Linked DNA regions of Homo sapiens: all the other regions are linked to region 1. Evidence: fine-mapped expression QTL. A gene starts in region 1. Each other region holds a variant in brackets. All regions are shown on one strand. Distances are between the middles of the regions.

Region 1 (4,216 bases):
TTATATTTTAATAACTTTTTGGTAGTACCTTTTTTGGTTGTGAGGAATTTCAGCGTTTCTATTTGTTAGCATTATTTCCAGCATATCCTATTATGCACGTGAACTTGAAACATGGCATAACAGTATTTATCTTGGCTATTATTTTGTTCACAATATCTAATTTTACTAAGTTTTTCTTTTTTAAATTGAGAACTGTTACACACAAAACCCTAAACTAGAGAGGCTGAGTTCTGCAAGTGATTTATGTAAATCTGAATAAAACATGAATGAGTTGGGATTATTTGGGAGCGGGGAGGAGATTTTGCAATTGAGTCTTCCTAGTCTATTTAAAACTTACACTGGATGTTAACAAATTAAGAAGGCAAGTTGAATGTTCACGAAAAATTGGACAGGGCAGCGTTAAGCACAAATGCTTAACGTGAATCTTTCTTCGTATTATATGTAGAGATCTAAACTGTCATAATTCTCTGTCTGATAAGATTTATAATTCTGCTACTGACGTCAGCAATTCAAGTCCACAAATTCGTGTTCTATTAATATTAAATAAAGAAAAGGATATACATTATGGCAAAATTTATTTTCTAAGATCAGAGGTGATGGATTCAACAGGAGGGTGTTAGAGTGTGTTTTGTCTATGCATGGGTTTAAAAGATAAGAAAAAAAAAAGCCCTAACCCTTCATCCTCAGGCTCCTGAATGTCTGTTTTGACACCCAGGTGGATGTAGTGGAATGACACTTCCAGCATCCCCAGAAGACTGAGGGCTAGAATGCCAAGCTTTTCCAGCAAATGTTCGTAGTAAAGTTACCAGGCATTTCTATACAATTTGTTTTTTTCCAGATGAGTTGGGCTTGTTCTTTCCTAGAAGCAATTATGATGCTAATAGGAGTGGCTGGCACACAAAACAGGGTAGCTATGAATTCAGCGGCACCTTGAATCTAACAAGGGGCTCCAGGTCATTCTTTGCTCACTTCTTCTTCCATCTGTCATTGAAAATTGGAGAGCATTTGATTAAGATCATTATAGCAGTTAGCAGTCTGATTCCAGCACTGGAAAGCAGGGAAGTAAAGGGCTATTTCCACCCCCGATCGATGCTGCCAGTTTTAAATGGCATCAAGCCCCTGACCTCCACATTGTCCCAAAATGATCTCAATAGCTTGTCCGGCTCCTGGTGGTGGTAGTGGAAGGGACTGGATGGGCGGAACAAAATTCTTCAACCCTTCTAAACAAACAGATGTCGCTTTTCTGCCGTTCCTGCAGTACACCTGTCTGCCCTGGGAAGTACATTTCTCAGCTGCAGCCCCGCGAGGCCAAGAGCTTGAAGCTGGGTCCTGTGGTTGGGGCTGCAGGTGCTGGGCCTAAAGAGCACGAAGGGGTGCTCCGATGCCCGAGCCCTGGTGCCCAAGGTGTGTGTGTGTGTGGCGGTTGCGGGGGTGGGGTCCGAGGTTTGGAGGGCCGACCTCTTGAAGGCGGGCGGCAGCCACCAACCACATCCTGGCTCCCGCACAGACACACCCCCGGGGTGTCGGTGCCGCAGCCCTCAGCCCCTCCCCGGGTAGCCAGCAGCGCCCGGTCGGCCGCTGGCCGCAGGAGAAAGTAAACAACACCCCAAGTGTCCGGGAACAAAGGCAAGTTGTCTTTCTACGGTGCCGCAGCCGTGTGCCTCTTCTGAAGAATAAGAGCTATTATTATTCTTTATGTCTTATCCTTTTTTTTTTTTAAAAAAAAAACCAAGTTTCCTTCTAAGGGAAATAAACACCAAAGGTAGGATTCCAAGGAAATGACTCACAGCGGCTGGCAGGGCTCTGGCGGGGCTGGCCCGGGCCCCCGCGCTCCAGCCCGCAGCAGATGTCGGCCCGGCCTTCCCTCCCTCCCTTGCCGGCCAAACCCGCTGGAAGCCCGCGGTTGCGGGAGCGCCCTGCGCCCGTGGGACCTGGCGGCGAGGACGCCTATTCCCTGCTTCTGCGACCACAGCTGGGCACTCGGAAAGTTGCTAGGGCCGAAGAGGCGGGAGGGGAGGAAGGGAAGCGAGAGGCGGAGGCGTGGACCAGGCGGGCAGCAGCCTCAGCCCGCCGAGGAGGTGAGCTGAGGACAGAGGAGCCGCCGCCGCCCGCAGCGCAGCTCTGCTGCCTGGGAGGAGGGTGCGGGGGCGGAGGTGGCGGGGGACAGAAGGTGTCAGCTACTGCATCAATTCCTTTTTCTTGCAAACGCGCGCTCCTGACATCCACAATCCCTCTCTCCCCACCTGCCAAGCGCCGCGGCATCCGGACCTGGGGGCACCCCTCCTACTTAACCCCTTCCCCTACGATGAGGGACTAAGCGGCCACGGAGGACCATGAGGTCTCACCAGAGCTTCTGACCCCACCCGCCCCTGGAGTTGTCTCGGTGCGCGCGGGTGGCAGCCCGAGCAGCCCTAGAGGAGGCGGCGGTTCCCGCCCTGGTGAAGGCGCCGCGGCGCACGCTAGCCCAGGGAAAAGCCCGCGCCGCCTCCGCGCCCAGCTGTGCCTTGGCCCCCACGCCGCCCCGACTCCGCTCCGGCCGCTGCGAGTCCACTCGGTGACCTCGGCACAGCCCTGGTGCCAAGAGGGCGCGCGGGAGGCCGCGTGGGTGCCCGTCTGCGAGGGCAGGAGCCCCGGGGGGCCCTCGCCCTCCACCCTGCCCGGCCCTCCCGCCCCCGCGGCCCGCGCCCAGCCCGGCTCTTACCGCGGGGTCAGCGGGGAGGCGGCGGCCGCAGCGCTTGAGCTGCTGCTGGTCCGCTCTGGGCTCGGCGCCAGCCCGGCCGCCGGTGCACACTCGCGGGTCCCGGCCCGGCCGCCCGCTCGGCGGTGACTGCGGGTGCGCGGCGGGCAAGGGTCCCGGCAGGTCCCGCCGCCGCGACTGGGGCGCTGCGCCGCCGTCGCTGCAGACGGTTATGGTAATGAGCGGCTCTGTCTAGCGAGGAGCGTGTGAAACCCGTCAATCCTGTTTGCCATTTCCCCGTGGATTTCCGAGGAGAGGTTCTGCAGGATGCCCCCAGGGTGAGAGAGGGAACATGACAAGCGCGCCCGCTCTCCCTCCCTCCCTCTGCTCAGGCCGCCGCCGCCGCTCCTCAGGCTGCACACGGGGCGCCTTTCCCGCACCCCCACCCCAGCCCGCCCCCTGCCTCCTTCCCTGCTTCCCGCCCTCCCTCCTCCTTTTCCTCCCCTCCCCTCCCGGTGCCCGGGGACACGCGGGCCCAGCTCCAGCCCGCAGCCCAGACCCCACGCGCTCTCGGGCTCCCGCCCTAGCCCTGGGGGCTTGGCTCCAGCCGAATAATGTATTCACTCTGGAACCTTCCGAGATATCTTGTCTTTTTAAATTTGGTTTAGTTTTGTTGTTGTTGTGTGTGCGTGTGATTAAAAAAAAAATCTGTGCCTTTCCCACCCTTTGCAAAAGACTTTCTTCTCCTTTGCCACAGCAAACGGAGATGAGAAACAGATGTCTTTGCAGGACCAAACAGTTATTCTCCCTCGCCGCCCGCCCCCGCCCGTTTCCCTCCTGAGCTGCGTACGTATTAAAAAAAAAAAAAAAAGCAACCTTGGTCCTGCTGCAACTTGAATTGGCAACCCTTTCTGGGTGGGGAGCCTCCAGGGAAAACCTCCAGGAAATAAAAAGTAATACAAGAGATTGTCCTTGCTCAAGAGAATGTAATTTAAGCCTTGGAATCAGAATATTTTGCAAATAGTAATTTTCTCCTATAGTGGCCTCAGAGTTTATTTTTTAAAATCATTAATTCATAACTTCTGTCTAGGGACCCCTCCATAGTCGAGATGGGTCATTTCAGGTGTAATGAAGGCAGAGGCTTGGAAGGCATAGACCTAATAAAATCGGGAGAAGGCACCTGCACAAAAGTGTTACAAAGACTATAATGTTTGTTTACTGCCACTATACCAGATGTGCTAAATATAACACTTCTTTAAAACAGTGATCCTCCGACTGTGAAAAACCAGACCTCTGGCTGCCTGGCTCCCTAGGAATCAAGAAGACGCACAGACTGAAAATCAAGGGAGGAAGGAACAAGATCAAGGATGAGGATTAGCATCTGCAAATTGAACTCTATCTAATTTGCATGTTTATTTCTTAGAATTGTAATTAAATTTGTGTAATAAATGTTTTCCATTTCATTTGTACACTTAAAACTTGGGTGACTGACATGCAGTTAAGTGAATTTCCTTTTTTTAAAAGCAAATGTAGATTATT
Region 2 (4,216 bases), 22 kb before region 1:
AATCGCCCAGGAAGGGCCTGTCTGTCACAGGCCTGGCCTGGCCTGCATGGCACCGAGGTGCTACATCAAAGGAGAGCGGTGGAGTCGGCGATTACTCGGGCATGTGGCTCACCTTCCTGCCAGTATTTTCCCTGACAAGACTTTACTTGCCACCCACATTTTCCTCTCTGGTAACAGAGAGGATTAAAGGCTCCTCAGTCTGCTTCTAACTAAAGCCCTCACCACTCCAGAAACTACTGGAGCTACTGTCTGCAACTCCTCCTCTCCCCCAACCTGCCTCCCCTGTCCTTGACTCTGCCACTCTAGGATAGTCCCACACAACCCTCTCTGGGCCGTGGGGATGATGCTGGAGGGTGTAGATCAGAGCCGGCCAGCCCCAAAACGTTGACCCTCTGGTGCCGGGTAGTTTTCACTGGGCAGTCCCTGGGAGTGAACTAGGGGGATGGGCTAAGGGTCCCCAAGAAGCAAGAACATGGTGCCCAGAGGGCCCAGAGGAGAGGGGATGTGGTTGTGAGCCAGATGGGAGCTGCATGATTCCCTGTACAAGGGATCACGGAGATCCAGGCCTTGACTTGTCCGATATGGTAGCCACTAGCAGTATGTGGCTATTGAGCATTGAAATTGAAATGTGTCTTGTCCTAATTGATATGTGTTGTCATTGTAAACTAGACACCAGATTTCAGACTTAGTACAAGACAAAAAAGAATATAAAATATCTCAGTCAAAATGTTTATATTGATTACATGTTAAAATGACAATAATTTGTGTATATTTGGGTTAAATAAAATATATTATTTAAATGTTTTATAATTTAAAACTTTTTTTTATTTTTTAAAAATTAAGGGACTGGGTGTGGTGGCTCATGCCTATAATTCCAGCACTTTGGGAGGCTGAGGCGAGAGGATTGCTTGAGTCCAGGAGTTCAAGACCAGCCTGGGCAACATAGTGAGACCTTGTCTCTATTAAAAAAAAATTTAAAAAAAAAGTGCAGTGGTATAATCATAACTCACTGTAGCCTCGACCTCCTGGGCTCAAAAGATCCTCCCTGCTTAGCCTCCTTGAGTAGCTGGAACTACAGATGTGCAACGCCACACCTGGCTAATTTTTAATTTTTAGTAGAGACAAGGTCTCCCTGTGTTGCCCAGTTTGGTCTCGAACTCCTGGGCTCAAGTGATTCTCCAGCCTCAGCCTCCCAAAGTGCCGCGATTACAGGTGTGAGCCACCACGCCCAGCCTTTATTATTAAAATTAATGTCACTTTTTTTAATGAACTTTTTTTTTTAATGTGACTACTAGAAAATTGAAAATGACATTCATGATTCGCATCGTATTTTTATTGAGCAGTGCTGGTCTAACAGAAGTAAAGTGTTCCCCACGGGGGGATCAGCCACGGAGAGGGGACCAGTGAGAGAGAGCCTGCTGTGCCCACTTTGAAGTCTTCTCTACCATCAGTCTTGTTCAGCTGGGAACAGGAGCCTGTGAACAGCTTGCCTGACAATGAGACTGACCGGGAGCTAGAACTAAAGCTCCTGACCCCATTCTAATGCTCTGTTCTCTCAAGACAGGACCCCTCATTCCCTCATACCTGGGGCTGGGTTGATGAATTTGTGGCTTACGGTGTAGGGGAGGGGGAAGGTACCCCCAGGACTCTGGGCATCTGTCTAGGGGACCTTCACTGCTGGACTCACCAAAGTTTTAGGGACCAGGACGTGGTGGTAGTACATGTCTCTTCCTGCCAGGAGCCCTTGTCACAGCCTGCAAGCTTAGAAAAGAGAGATGCCCCTTCCAATGTAGGGCATATTCTATTATTTATTAACCCCGAGGAGGCCTGCCCACGATGGCCTTCCAGCTGGTTAATTGGATTTCATGACAACTTTTTTAAAAGGAATGTTCTGAGGAGCAGTGTTGTGTCCTGCCCCAGGGGTCCTGTGAGGTTTCCTCCATCTCCTTGAAAACTCAGCCACTGCGGTATAACATGGAGCTTTAATCATACATGTCAGTGTAGCTCCAGTCCCATCAGAAGCTGTGGTGGGGCTGACACAGCCACTGATGCTCCAGGATGAGAAATAAGTCCCTTTCTTACCTATGATAGAGAAAGTATCTTCTGTGCTTGATGTGTGGGCGACTGCTAGTTAATTTGT[G/A]AGGCACTTCTGCTTCGATTACAGCCCCTCGTAGGTGAAAGTGTGCTGCTTATCACAATCAGAATGTCATAAGTTTGCATTTCCTTCTGCTGAGGAGACATTAATAGACATAAGGTCCTATGATAATAGCTATTAGCATGGCTGAGGCCCCTACTTAAACAATTGCTTTGAGACTAGGCAGCTAAACACTAGTATTTCATGCATGGGCTCATTGCTCTTCCTCCCAGGTCAGTTTTGCTATGGTTGTTTCATCCAGAGGATGTTCAGGGAAGGACAGAAGGGGAGCCCCCTGCAGATTCGTGGCCACCCACTGTCCCATGGCCTTCAGATAAGGAGAGGGACAAAGCCTGCTGTACAAAAAAATCTATGTATGCACAAAGCTGCATTTTTAAGGACAGGCAAGAATTCCTGGTGTTATGGTAGAATTTACTGGAGAGCCCTTTAGACTGTTAGATTCCTGCCAGAATGGGTTGTTTACAGGGAGGTCTACTGAGGATGGAGACTGGGCAACTTAAAACAAGAAGGCAAGGAGCTAACCCCATGTTTAGTGTCTTTCTTGTGTAGAGTTCTGACACTAGACACTTACAGTAAGTATGTGCCCATAAACCACTATCCCATGGACCCGAGGGTAGAGCCCCTTCCTAGGATTTGGAAGGGACCCTGGAGAGAAGGAATGGGGGTGCGTACTGAGGTACTAGAACCCCTAGGGATGAGTGCAGTGGAAGTTCAGATAGCCATGGAATCTATCCTTTGACTGGGTGCTCTCTTTTTCTGGAGGACATGCTCATAAAACAACAAATTGTCACTCTAAACTATTCCCCCACATCAACAAGGACAAGGGTCCCACAGCTATTCATATTGTGTGCTTGGCATTATGTAAAGTGACTTACATACACCATCCCAATAACTTAGTTATGGGTATAGTTAGCCACATTTTACTCATGAAGAAACCTGCGCTTACAGAAGTCAAGACATTTACTCAAGGTCACAAAGTTATAGGAAGCCAGGATTGTAACTAAGCTCTCTGATTCCAAAGCCCATGTTTAATTTCTACTTTATAATGCCTTCCAAAAAAAATCTCCCCCAAAACTATGATTCTAGTTGAAAAGTAATTCTAGAGAGGGGGGATATTACATTTTATGTATCACAGAACAGACCTATAGTAGCCCTGGAAAGGCTTCACACAAAATGTGGACCTTGAAGTGGCCTTGAGGGCAAGTTACTCTTTGTATAAGTGGGGGCATGGAGAGGTTATCCCAGGCTAAGGGAAAAGCAGGAGTGAAGGCTGGGAGGTGAAAAGTTGCAGGTCAGCAAGAGAGGACATTGAGAGGACAGAAGTGGCTGGAGCAGAAGGTTCCCCCCAGGGAGCAGAAGGTGGGGCTGGGCATGTAGCCTGGGCTGAGGTCTGGAGGGCATTGAAAGTCAAACCTGGGAGGTAAAGTATTCCTGTTTGCCTGGTGATTTAGGATGATCAGCTACAGAATGGATGGAGTGGAAATGCTTGGGGACTTAGGGGGCACCCTGGGCAGGGCTGAGGCTGTGGACTTCACCTCGGTGGACCTTAATCTCCCCTGCTGTGAGAAGGGTAGATAACCCTGGGTGCTCAGAAGTCTGGGCCCCTGTGGAGCTTGGTGATGCTAAGGCACCTGATGGATGCTAAACCACCTAGGTTATGGCTGCCAGGTGCAATGGCAGAGGTGCAATAGTAGCACCTTCTTTTTCAATGTAAAGATAGCTAGAGGGAGAGAATTGACTAATTGTGTGAGAGCAGAGGGAGGAGTTCAGGTGACTCTGAGACTCCAGTTGGAGGATGTGAACAGAGTATCCCTCTCAGCAGTTGGTCCCCAGCACTGCCTGAGGCCACACCCAAATCTAGGAGCTCCAGTCCACCCCCTTGGGCACTGGCATTCTGCATGCCTGGCTTGGAGGTAGGGTCTCCCCAGCTCCTCCCTGCCCCCTCTGCAGAAAAGCTGAGACTTTTCCCATTTCTCCTGCCTCTTGTTTCTCTAATTTTATGATTGTATGAAAATAAGGTTCCCAAATTGCCTTTAATTAGCTTTAATAAGACAGCCTTTT
Region 3 (4,216 bases), 39 kb before region 1:
AGAAGAAGGCATTGTTATCACAGGAGACAACTATTGCCCCCAAAGACCTTCCAATGGGGCCGGGCGTGGTGGCTTATGCCTATAATCCTGGCACTTTGGGAGGCCAAGGTGGGTGGATTGTTTGAGCCCAGGAATTTGAGACCAGCCTGAGCAACATGGTGAGACACCTATCTCTACAAATTACACAAAAATTAGGCCAGTGTGGTGGCACAGGCCTGTAGTCCCAGCTACTTGGGAGGTTGATGTGGGAGGATTGCCTGAGCCTGGGAGGCAGAGGTTGCAGTGAGCTGAGGTCACACCACTGCACTCCAGCCTGGGCAACAGGGCAAAACTCTGTCTCAAAAAACAAACAAACAAACAAAAAAAACAAAAACAAAAAACTTTCCAGTTGGACAAGATATGGAGGTGGTTCTTGACCCTGTGTAGACCTAGGCTAATGTGTATGTTTGTGTTTTAGTTTTTAACAAAAAAGTTATATAAAAATAGAAAAAAGCATATAGAATAATGACATAAGGAAACAAATATACAAAGAAAAATTTGTGTATAGCCGTACAATGTGTGTTTTAAGCTAAGTGTTAATACAAAGGAGTCAAAAAGGTTTTAAAATTTTTCAAAGTTTATTAGGTAAAAAAGTTACAGCAAGCTAAGGTTAATTTGTTATTGATGAAAGAAAAATATTGTTTATAAATTTATTGCAACCTAGGTGTACAGTGCTTATAAAGTCTACAGTAGTGCACAGTCTTAGGCCCTCACATTCACTCACCACTCGTTCACTGACTCACCCAGAGCAACTTCCAGTCCTGCAAGCTCCTTTCACAGTGAGTACCCTATACAAGTCTACCATCATTTATCTTTTATACTGTATTTTTACTATGCCTTTTCTATGTTTAGATAAGTTTACATACAAAAAACACTTACAATTGCCTGTGGCATTCTAGAGCTTACCATTGCCTATGTTACAATCGCCTATGGTATTCAGTACAGTAACATTCTGTACAGGTTTGTAGCCTAAGAGAGATAGGCTATACCATGCACCCTAGGTGTGTAGTAGGCTCTACCATCTAGGTTTGTGCAAGTACACTCTATGATGTTTACACAATGGTGAAATCGCCTAACAATGAAATCGCCTAATGACACATTTCTCAGAACATATCCCCTTTGTTAAACAATGCAGGACTGTATACATATAAGCAATTAGAACAGTGTCTGGCACACAGTTTTGCTATTATTAGTATCATCGTTAACTTCTCTTCCCTATGAACATCTGAAAAACCCCTATCTTTTTTTGTTTATATTAACATATACACAATTCATGTCCTTCCCTGCAGAGAACGTGAGAGAATGAAGGCAAAGGGGGAATCAAAGCTGGAAAGGCAGAAACAAGTGACCCAAGGCGCCTGCTTGGCACCAAACGACTCCTCAGGTAAGCCCTAGCCAGCCCCCATCCCCGCCCCCAGCTGGCCTGTGCTAATGGAATTCAGAAGGTAACACAATCCTCAGGCTCTGAATTCTTGGAGGATCCTGGCCAGGGGCTATGGGAGCTGGCAGGAGGCCGGGAGGCTGAGGGCTGTGATAAAGATCAAGTGCCCACAGCCCTCCCGTCCCTTCCATCCCACCCGGGGCTGCCTCCTGAAGCCTGGCCTCAGTGCAGGTTTGCAGATTTTCTCTAACTGGCTGTCTGGCTTCCTGGAGAGAAAGTGTTCAAGCCCAGAGAGCCTCAGGAATGAGAGTCTAATCAGACCCATGTGTGGAGAAAACCTCTACTCCTTTTTCTTAGTTCTTGCTGCTTTCGTCCCCACCTGGGAAAAGACAGTAGCCCAATAGGGGAGGGCCTTTCCTATGGGGGGAAAGCTGGTGGTCAGGGTCCCCCTTCCCCCGCCCCCACATTTTCCCCCATGGCCGGGGCTTAGAGACTTCTCTGTCACCCTGCAGGGGAACGGGGATCCAGACAGGGCTTTTGCTCCTCCACCCACCCCAGGATGAACCACAGTGAGAGTAACCACTGAAACACAAGATAGTTGGGACCTCTGGGTGTCAAACAAGAAGGAGGGTAGAAAACACAAAGAAGGCAAGAGACATAGTCCTTTTGGAGACTCAGCCCCTGCCTAAGCTCCCTGTCTGGGGCAGAAACATGAGTCGCCCACAGGATACAAGAGAAATAAGACAGAAACTTTTTTTTTTTTTTTT[A/TA]ACTCTGTACCTCAATGGATGCAAAGGGACAGAAACTTATGAGCAAAAATTGTTTGACTCTTACAGGATCCAAATTCCCGGCAAAGCACAAACAACCATGGAAAGAAACTGCTTGGAGTGCTTTCTGCCATCTTCTCACCAAGTTCAGGAGTCAGCACTTCTCAATGCGTCTCGTCTACACCATGCACTATATAGGCACTTCTACATACTGCCCATTCTCATTACTTAGGGTACTTACGCCCTACAAAATCACTGCAGACCTCGAACCTCTGGTCAGAACATTTTCATTAACCAATCAATACATAGCCTTGTTTTATGAGCTTCTATGAAGTATGTATCATTGATTCATTAACATTGAACTCACAGCCCACAACACTATCATTTCGGCCTGAACAAAGCTTATCTAACAGACTTCTTTTCTCAGTAAATCTCATCACAGTCTTCTTGTGCTTAGGAGCAGGAGACACCACTTCAGTGCTATGCTTGGGGACCATTTTAGACAGTGAAATCACCAAGAAAAAGCACAAAAAATGCCAAAACCATGGCACTAAATAGACTGCAAAAAGGGCATTTGTTTACAGCATGAGGGCTGAAAGAAGAAGGAAGAGCATGCCTTATCCAGCCTCAGCTGGGAACGTGATTTGAATTTCTGCTGCTCTGTGCATGTCTGCAAATGACCCCAAAAACATTGTAAATATTGATTTGAGGGTTACAAATACATTTTTGTGAGTAGGCAAATTTGCAAATACAGAGGTCACAACTAACAGGACCAACTGTACATTATCTCATTTACTTCTCCTAGCAATTCTATGTGGTAGGTATTATTATTATTATTATTATTTGTAGAGACAGAGTCTCGCTTTGTTCCCTAGGCTGATCTCAAACTCCTGGGCTCAAGCAATCCTCTCTCCTCAGCCTCCCAAAGTGCTGGGATTACAGGTGTGAGCCGCCATGTCCAGCCTGTGGTGGGTATTATTATTCCAATTTTAAAGATTAGAAAACTTGGGAGCTGGACACGGTGGCTCATGTCTGTAATCCAGTGACTCAGGAGGCTGAGCAGGAGGATCCCTTTAGCCTAGGATTTTGAGGCTGCAGTGAGTCCACCACTAGTCCAGCCAAGGTAACATAGCAAGACTCAGCTTCTAAAAAAAAAAAAGGTTGGGAAACGGAGGCTCAGAGGGGTTTATGTGATTTGTACAAGGTGGTATGGCTAACAAGTGGCATTTGTATGTCTCCCACATCAAGCTTAAGACCTTTCACTTGGATAAAACTCTACCAGAGAAGATCATCCTGCCTCAGTCAGTCTTTTATTCTGTTATCTATTTGCCATACCTAAATGGGCTTGTTCAGCTACTGCTGTGGGCTGGTGTGTTCTCTTTGATTTATCTGGGGGTGCTTATGGGGATGGGGAACTATAACCCTCTTCCTCTATCCCCAGATTGAACTCAGATTCTTGAGTAGAGAGAGGGCCTCTCCTGCTGTTTATTCCCCAGGAGCTCTGCAAGCAGAGTCTTGAGAAAAGCAGCCCCCATTCCTATCCTGTATTCAGCTACTGCTACAGGCTCACAGAGCAGGTCGTCTGGGGCAAGTGTGGGAGGGCTCAGGTAGGCTCTGCATCAAGTCATTCAACAGATGCAACAGATATTGGGCCCCTGCTATTTACTTAGTCCAATATCGAGCTTGCCTCGGGGACACTGTAAAGACATAGGAAACATCTCCACCCTGGTCTGCTTTCAAATAAGTTACCTGTGGTGTGGGAGATTAAGACGCAAACATCACAGGCCAGCCAGAACCGTGCATGGTGCAGAGCTGAGCTCAGTGCAGCCTTCAGTGGGTAAGAGCATCCATGAGGGCTGGCGTGGGTCCTTCTTCATGGAGAAGGAGTTTTGAAGTGAACTCAAATAGTGAAAGGGATAGATAGAAGGAAGGAGGGGAGTTCAGGCATAGCTTGTGAGGAGATCAACGTGGCTAGAATCTGGGCTGCAAGCTCAGGACGGAGTTTAGCAGCAACAAAGAAACAATCCAGGAA

Direction of the effects. Positions count from the first base shown, and alleles are read on the strand shown. Sizes are in standard deviations (SD) of each study's normalised expression.
With allele G in place of A in region 2, the expression in prefrontal cortex of the gene that starts at base 1,828 in region 1 is lower (small effect, 0.31 SD a copy in GTEx).
In carriers of allele A in region 3, the expression in subcutaneous fat of the gene that starts at base 1,828 in region 1 tends to be higher than with TA alone (moderate effect, 0.44 SD a copy in TwinsUK).

Evidence for each region. PIP is the estimated chance that this variant, and not a neighbour inherited with it, causes the effect. A credible set is the group of variants that fine-mapping cannot tell apart.
Region 2: its variant is the best candidate, but not a certain one, in a credible set for the expression of SERTAD4-AS1 in prefrontal cortex (GTEx, PIP 0.54).
Region 3: its variant is the best candidate, but not a certain one, in a credible set for the expression of SERTAD4-AS1 in subcutaneous fat (TwinsUK, PIP 0.76).

The regions. Positions count from the first base shown.
Region 1 is chr1:210,231,497-210,235,712 of GRCh38, reverse strand. It overlaps SERTAD4-AS1 (SERTAD4 antisense RNA 1), which reads left to right and starts at 1,828. Exons shown (of 2, transcript NR_024337.2): 1 at 1,828-2,078; 2 at 3,942-4,216. It overlaps SERTAD4 (SERTA domain containing 4), which reads right to left and starts at 2,917. Exons shown (of 4, transcript NM_019605.5): 1 at 2,702-2,917. RefSeq lists an enhancer at 2,506-3,039.
Region 2 is chr1:210,253,682-210,257,897 of GRCh38, reverse strand. No RefSeq gene overlaps it. Among named protein-coding and RNA genes, the nearest start is that of SERTAD4-AS1, 22 kb to the right of the region's middle. The variant G/A (reference allele first, on the strand shown) is at 2,141.
Region 3 is chr1:210,270,255-210,274,470 of GRCh38, reverse strand. No RefSeq gene overlaps it. Among named protein-coding and RNA genes, the nearest start is that of LINC02602, 21 kb to the left of the region's middle. The variant A/TA (reference allele first, on the strand shown) is at 2,188.